Linked DNA regions of Homo sapiens: region 1 is linked to region 2. Evidence: fine-mapped QTL for protein levels in blood plasma. Region 2 holds a variant in brackets. A gene starts in the other region. All regions are shown on their forward strands.

Evidence for each region. A credible set is the group of variants that fine-mapping cannot tell apart. PIP is the posterior inclusion probability: the model's chance that the variant is causal. Protein levels are from antibody-based Olink assays in UK Biobank. Linkage for the fine-mapping came from a reference panel and not from the study's own genotypes, which makes the PIPs less certain.
Region 1: it holds the start of SRP14, and the variant in region 2 is the best candidate, but not a certain one, in a credible set for the plasma level of the SRP14 protein (UK Biobank, PIP 0.67).

The regions. Positions count from the first base shown.
Region 1 is chr15:40,037,997-40,040,825 of GRCh38, forward strand. It overlaps SRP14 (signal recognition particle 14), which reads right to left and starts at 1,185. Exons shown (of 5, transcript NM_003134.6): 1 at 1,097-1,185; 2 at 880-952; 3 at 286-398. The coding sequence starts at 1,120. SRP14-DT (SRP14 divergent transcript) reads left to right here and starts at 1,315. Exons shown (of 3, transcript NR_040060.1): 1 at 1,315-1,452. It overlaps LOC124903471 (a long non-coding RNA gene), which reads left to right. Exons shown (of 2, transcript XR_007064596.1): 2 at 1-413. RefSeq lists enhancers at 203-1,148, 849-898, 919-1,098, 1,149-2,093 and a silencer at 1,179-1,388.
Region 2 is chr17:35,556,703-35,559,542 of GRCh38, forward strand. SLFN14 (schlafen family member 14) reads right to left here. Exons shown (of 6, transcript NM_001129820.2): 3 at 301-1,404. The coding sequence starts at 1,360. Among named protein-coding and RNA genes, the nearest start is that of SLFN14, 2.7 kb to the right of the region's middle. The variant TAA/T (reference allele first, on the strand shown) is at 2,351.

The DNA of each region.
Region 1 (2,829 bases), not on the chromosome of region 2:
GAATCAAATATTTATGCCAGCTGCTCCTTACAGTACTACGAATAAGGACCAATATGCTACTTTCATTTCCACAAGAGCTTTAGCAGAACTAACGACTGTCTGACCTCTACCTTCTTATTTTATTCTTGAGGTTTCCACTACTAAAGTATAGGAAGGTCCTGGTCTCAAAAATAGCCACACAGGGCAAAAGGGAAAAACAAATAAAAGCCTGGTTCAGAAACGCCCCATCCTCTGTTAAGTTCAAGTCTTTACATTTCAAAAGACAGCCTTAGAAATTAAGCTCACCACAGTGCTGATCTTCTTCTTCCCATCGGTAGCTCTTAACAGACACTTGTTGTCTGCGGGCTCAAAGCCCTCCACAGTACCCTTCTTTGGAATGGGTTTGGTTCGACCGTCATCTGAAGGAAAAAATGCATCCTGGTGAACACGGCCGCGTACGTGGCTGAGCGGCAGACAAACAGTTAAAACAGAGGAGTGGGGTAAGTGATGACCTAACCCAGCCCCGCTGCTCTAGTTTTGTTAAACACCTCATCTGCTATCACGGTCTGGCGAAACCCTGGAGAAACTATTATTTCCACGACGGAAACATGTAATATCGAAGCACGTTAAATTCCACTCAAAGTGGCGGCGTCTGGGATCCCTGACAAAGAGCCCTGGGCTGCTTGGGGCCCATTGTTACCAGAAGCAACCTAGGCGGCTCAGTGCTGGGGACTGAGCCAGCTACAATCCCTACTATTTTCCGGGCCCGAAGCCCCGAATGTGCTCAGTACAGGGTGGGGAAAGGTAGAGGAAGGCGGCGGTCCGCGGCAGACAGACTCCGGTGGCTCCCAGACACCGGGAACCCAGGGAGCATCGCCCGGCTCCCCTCCCGCTGCTTACACTTCTTCAAGGTGATATAGACGCTGCCCGACGTCCGGCACTTCTGGAAAAGTCTGGTCAGCTCCGTCAGGAACTGGAAAACAACAGGCCCAGCCCCGTTAGCCAGCCCCAAATCCTCGTCCTGCCGCGTCAAGGCCCTGGTCCTCCTGCAGGAGGCACAGGTCTCGAGTAACGCCTGAGCCGCCCCCTTCCCTCGGCCGGCCAGGCCTAGCCATACCTGCTCGCTCTCCAACAACACCATCGCGGCGACGCTGGCTCGACTCCCTCCGCTTAAGCCCCTAGCAGTGAGAGCCGGAAGTTCGGCCTAGGCTGGGCGGGACTTCCGCTACTAGACTTCCATTGTCTTCCACCAATCTCTTCTCTTCCACCAATCCCGGCCTGCGCCCTCCCCCCTCCCCGCCCGCCTAGCGCCCGCGCCCTGGGACGTCCGGGGGCCTGTGACCCGGAGGCGCTGGGGCTGTCCTGGGTCGTCACATGCGAGAAATCGTCTCACCCCAGCCAGTGTGACGGAGTGAGAGCAAAAGAAAGTTTTGATAGCAGCGTACGATTTATATTCAGCTGTATGCTGGGCAGGTAACCTAACAACTCAGTGACTCAGTTTCCTTATCCATAAAGTAAGGGTAATGATAGTATCTACCGCGCAGTGTGGTCGTGAAGCGTAAATGAAACTCAGATTAAATACGTAGAACAGTGCCTGGCACATAGAGCGTGTTCAGTAGGTATCAGCTATTGTTCTTTTCATTATTGTCATTATAAGTTCCTGTAGAGATCCTTTAAACTCTCCCTAAACGCTGACCTGCAGCTCTAGCCAGAAGGGCTGGGCCGGGCGTGGTGGCTCACGCCTGTAATCCCGGCACTTTGGGAGGCCGAGGCGGGTGGATCACGAGGTCAGGAGATTGAGACCATCCTGGCTAACACGGTGAAACGCTGTCTCTACTAAAAATACAAAAAAGTTAGCCGGGCGTGGTGGCGGGCACCTGTAATCCTAGCTACTCGGGAGGCTGAGGCAGGAGAATGGCGTGAACCCAGGAGGCAGAGCTTGCAGTGAGCTGAGATCGCGCCACTGCACTCCAGCCTGGAAGACAGAGCGAGACTCCGTCTCAAAAAAAAAAAAAAAAAAAAAAAAAATGAGGGGCTGGAGCCCAGTCTTTAGTTCTACCTCTGATTAGTCAGGAGAACTAGGTTGTAAGCCCTCTCTGCCACTAGCCAACTTGAACCCTGGGCCCTCTATAAAGTCAAGCATTCCACCACACAAGAGGTTTTCGCTGAGTGCCTCTCAGTCTGTGCCAGGCACGGTTGTAGAGGTTGGGGATGCAGCAGGATAAGAAAAGCTAAGTTCCTGGTTTCCTGGAAGTTGGGTTAAAGGGGCAGGGAGGAAATAAACAATGAAGCAAACAAGTAAGTAGTACAGCTTCAGATAATGAATTCCGTGAGACAGCCTAAGCAGGGCTGTATAATGAGAGTGGGAAGGGGACTGCCTGGGTTGGGGTCAGGGGAGTTCTCGTCGAAAAGGAGAACTTTGAGTTGAAAGCTGAAAGGACCAGCCATCCAAAGATCTAGGGACACAGTGTTTCAGACACAGGGAACGGCTAGAGCAAAACCTTCAAAGGGGAAACAAGTTGCCCTGTGTCTGTAAGACTGGCAGGTGCGGGTGGGGGTGAGGAGGGCTTGTGGAGCAAGGAGTAAAGGAGTATGGAGAGGTAGCTGGGGACCAGATTATGTAGGGCCCGTGACCATAGTAAGCCTGGATTTTGTTCTAGATACAAAGAGAAGACTCGTTAAGGAAGTTTTCAACAGAACACTGAAAATCTGATTTATATTTTTTAAAGATCCCCCTGTCTGTGTTGTGGAGAATGCACTGTAGAGAGACAGGGCAGGAAATGAGGAGCCCAGTTAGGAGATTCAAACTTAATGGCTTAAATATGTTCACTCTCTGATTTCACATTTTCT
Region 2 (2,840 bases):
TGCACCTGGGAGGTGGAGTTTGCAGTGAGCCGAGGTCACACCACTGCACTCCAGCCTGGGTGACAGAGTCTAAAGAAAAAAAAGTTGTTTAGGCCATAGAATCCAAACATTTCTTGACCTCAGTTTATATTCTGAGTCTTTGGAACTAAAAATGTTAGATAAGGAACACTGTAATGGGAGAACACTTATAAGAAAAATAAATTTCTATTTTTTAACTAACATATGTGATCAAATACCCACAAAAGGCAGAGAAAGGGGTTCCTCCCTGCTGATGGGGACAATGACTTCACTTCCCTTTACCTGACTGAGTATCCAGCATCATGACCACCCACTGCTCAGCTGTCAGCCGTGTGACAGAATTGTCTTTCATGATCCAGGAATCTGGGGCCTCTGCAAACACCACGCAACAGAAGGGCTCCACTTGAATCACACAGACATAACCATCCAGGACATCTTTTTGGTACACATTCAGGATTTTTGTAGTGAAATTTACCTTTGGCTTCTCACAGCAGAAGTGGAATGTAGGCAATTTTTCTATGCAGTTTTCGATTTCTTTTTTTAGTAAGTCAGGATTCACTTTTTCCCACTTACATCCAACCACTTCTTTGCTCTTATCATCCACCCCAATGAGGACATATCCCCCTTGAGTGTTGGCAAATGCAGAAACATAATGAGGCAGCATTTCCTTAATCCGAGGTATGACTTTTTTGGTGGTGAACCTTTTAAATTCAACATGTGTTGACTCAGTAAAGTTGAGTTTCTCCTTATACATGAGTTTGTCCTTTTTAAAAAATTCTGAGGCCAATATCCTCATATCTTCCTCTTCCTGAATGCATCTATTGAGAACCTGCTGAGGATGCAACTTCTTCACCCTTGGTCTTCCTCTTTGGGCTCTAAACCCCTTCTCTCTGAGAAGCTCCAGGGCACTGCTAGCACTCAAGTTGATAGCAGAAGTCACATCTCTCCGATACAAATTGGAGCGCAAGCTGCAAATCCTTAGTGGAAGGCTGAAAACATCTGGGCTCCATGACTTCACAAAAATCAGGAGATTGTGCCCCTGCTGCATGTAGTCAAGGTATTTCTGTGAACCTGAAGGAAGGAGCTTTTGAAAAGAAGTTTCCAAATCCTGTCCCAGCCCATGGCATTGGTAACTATAGGTTTTATCATCAATCTCTGCTTTGATCACACCACCTCCAGAATTTAACAGTGCACATATAGCCCGGATAATTCTAGAATTCTCAGATCTTTTCAAACAGCTGTTGGTCATCTTCTTCCTGTTTTCTTCTCCAAAAATCACTCTGCCCACATCTACTATTACCTCAGGATACGGCATTTCAGTATCAGTCTTGAGACTCTCCATTTCAGCAGCCCCTCTGTGCTCCAAACAATAAAAGAAAGGAGTTCCTATAATCAGGACAGAAATATTGTTTCTATATTAATAAGAATTCCAAAGATTACAATATTTTCTTCAAAACTATCAATTACTGGAGATATATTTTAATGTTGGAAGTCATCTCTCTCTATATGTATATTTGTTGTTGTTGTTTGTTTTGGGTTTTTTAGTTTTGTTTGTTTGTTTTTGAGATAGAATCTTGCTCTGTTATGCAGGTTGGAGTGCAGTGGCACAATAATAGTTCTCTGCAACCTCAACCTCCCAGTTCAAGTGATTCTCCAACTTCAGTCTCCCTAGTAGATGAGACTACAGACACGTGCCACCAAGCCTGGCTAATTTTTTTTTTCTTTTTTGTTCTTGCTATTTTTTTTTTTTAAGAGATGGAGTCTTGCTACGTTGCAATCCTCCTGCCTGGGCCTCCCTCCCAAAGTGCTGGGATTACAGATGTGAGCCACCGCACCCAACTGGAAATTATCTTTGATACTGCTGTTTTCTAATCACTTTGCCAAATATCCTTAGCCTTGCCAGAATAAGTAGGCATGGATAAAGGTGAATGCCTAATATTTGTCATAATGGAAAAATTAAATTGCTAACATTTTCAGCCATTTTGCATTTCAAATCAGGAAACGCCAACACTGAGCCCAGATATAAAGGGCATGGGTTGGCACAGGAGCCCAGGAAGGTATTGGAGAATATGCAGAAATAGAAGTTGAAGTGAGAAGATGCTCTTATTTATAATTCAAAAGGGGAAGAAAGGAAGGCACTAGAGAACTAAGGAAGTATAATTTTACAGTATATGTACTGTAGAAGATCTTGCTATAAACACAAACATAGGCTGGGTGTGGTAGCTCACATGTGTAATCTCAGCACTTTGGGAGGTGGATGTGAGAGGATTGCTTTCGATCAGGAGTTGAGACCAGCGTGGACAACATAGCAAGACCCCATCTCGACAAAAGA[TAA/T]AAAAAAAAAAAATGTTAAACATTAGGCAGGTATGGTGGTGCGCACCTGCAGTCCCAGCTACCTAGGAGGCTGAGGTGGGAGGATCTCTTGAGCCCAGGAGTTTGAGGCTGCAGTGAACCATGATCGCACCACTGCACTCCAGCCTGGGCAGCAGAGTGGGAACCTGTCTAAAAAAATAAAAATAAAAGTAAATAAATAAAATTCTATATTTTTATGTATTATTTCATACACTTTGAAAAGCTTTATTTTACTCCTGAAAGAATGTCAGTTGATACCAAATGCAGAAACCTTTTCAACTCTTCACATGTTCTAAATCTCAAAAGTACATTGCCTCATATACAGTGTGATGTGACAGCAGCATTTTCCTTCCCTTCTAATAGTTCTGCCCTGTGCTGTGGAAACCCCTAAGACTTGGAAAAGAACATGAGCTTTTGGGGCATGGTAACTAAACCATTGTCACCCTTCTTTTGCTTCCTAGACCAGAAAA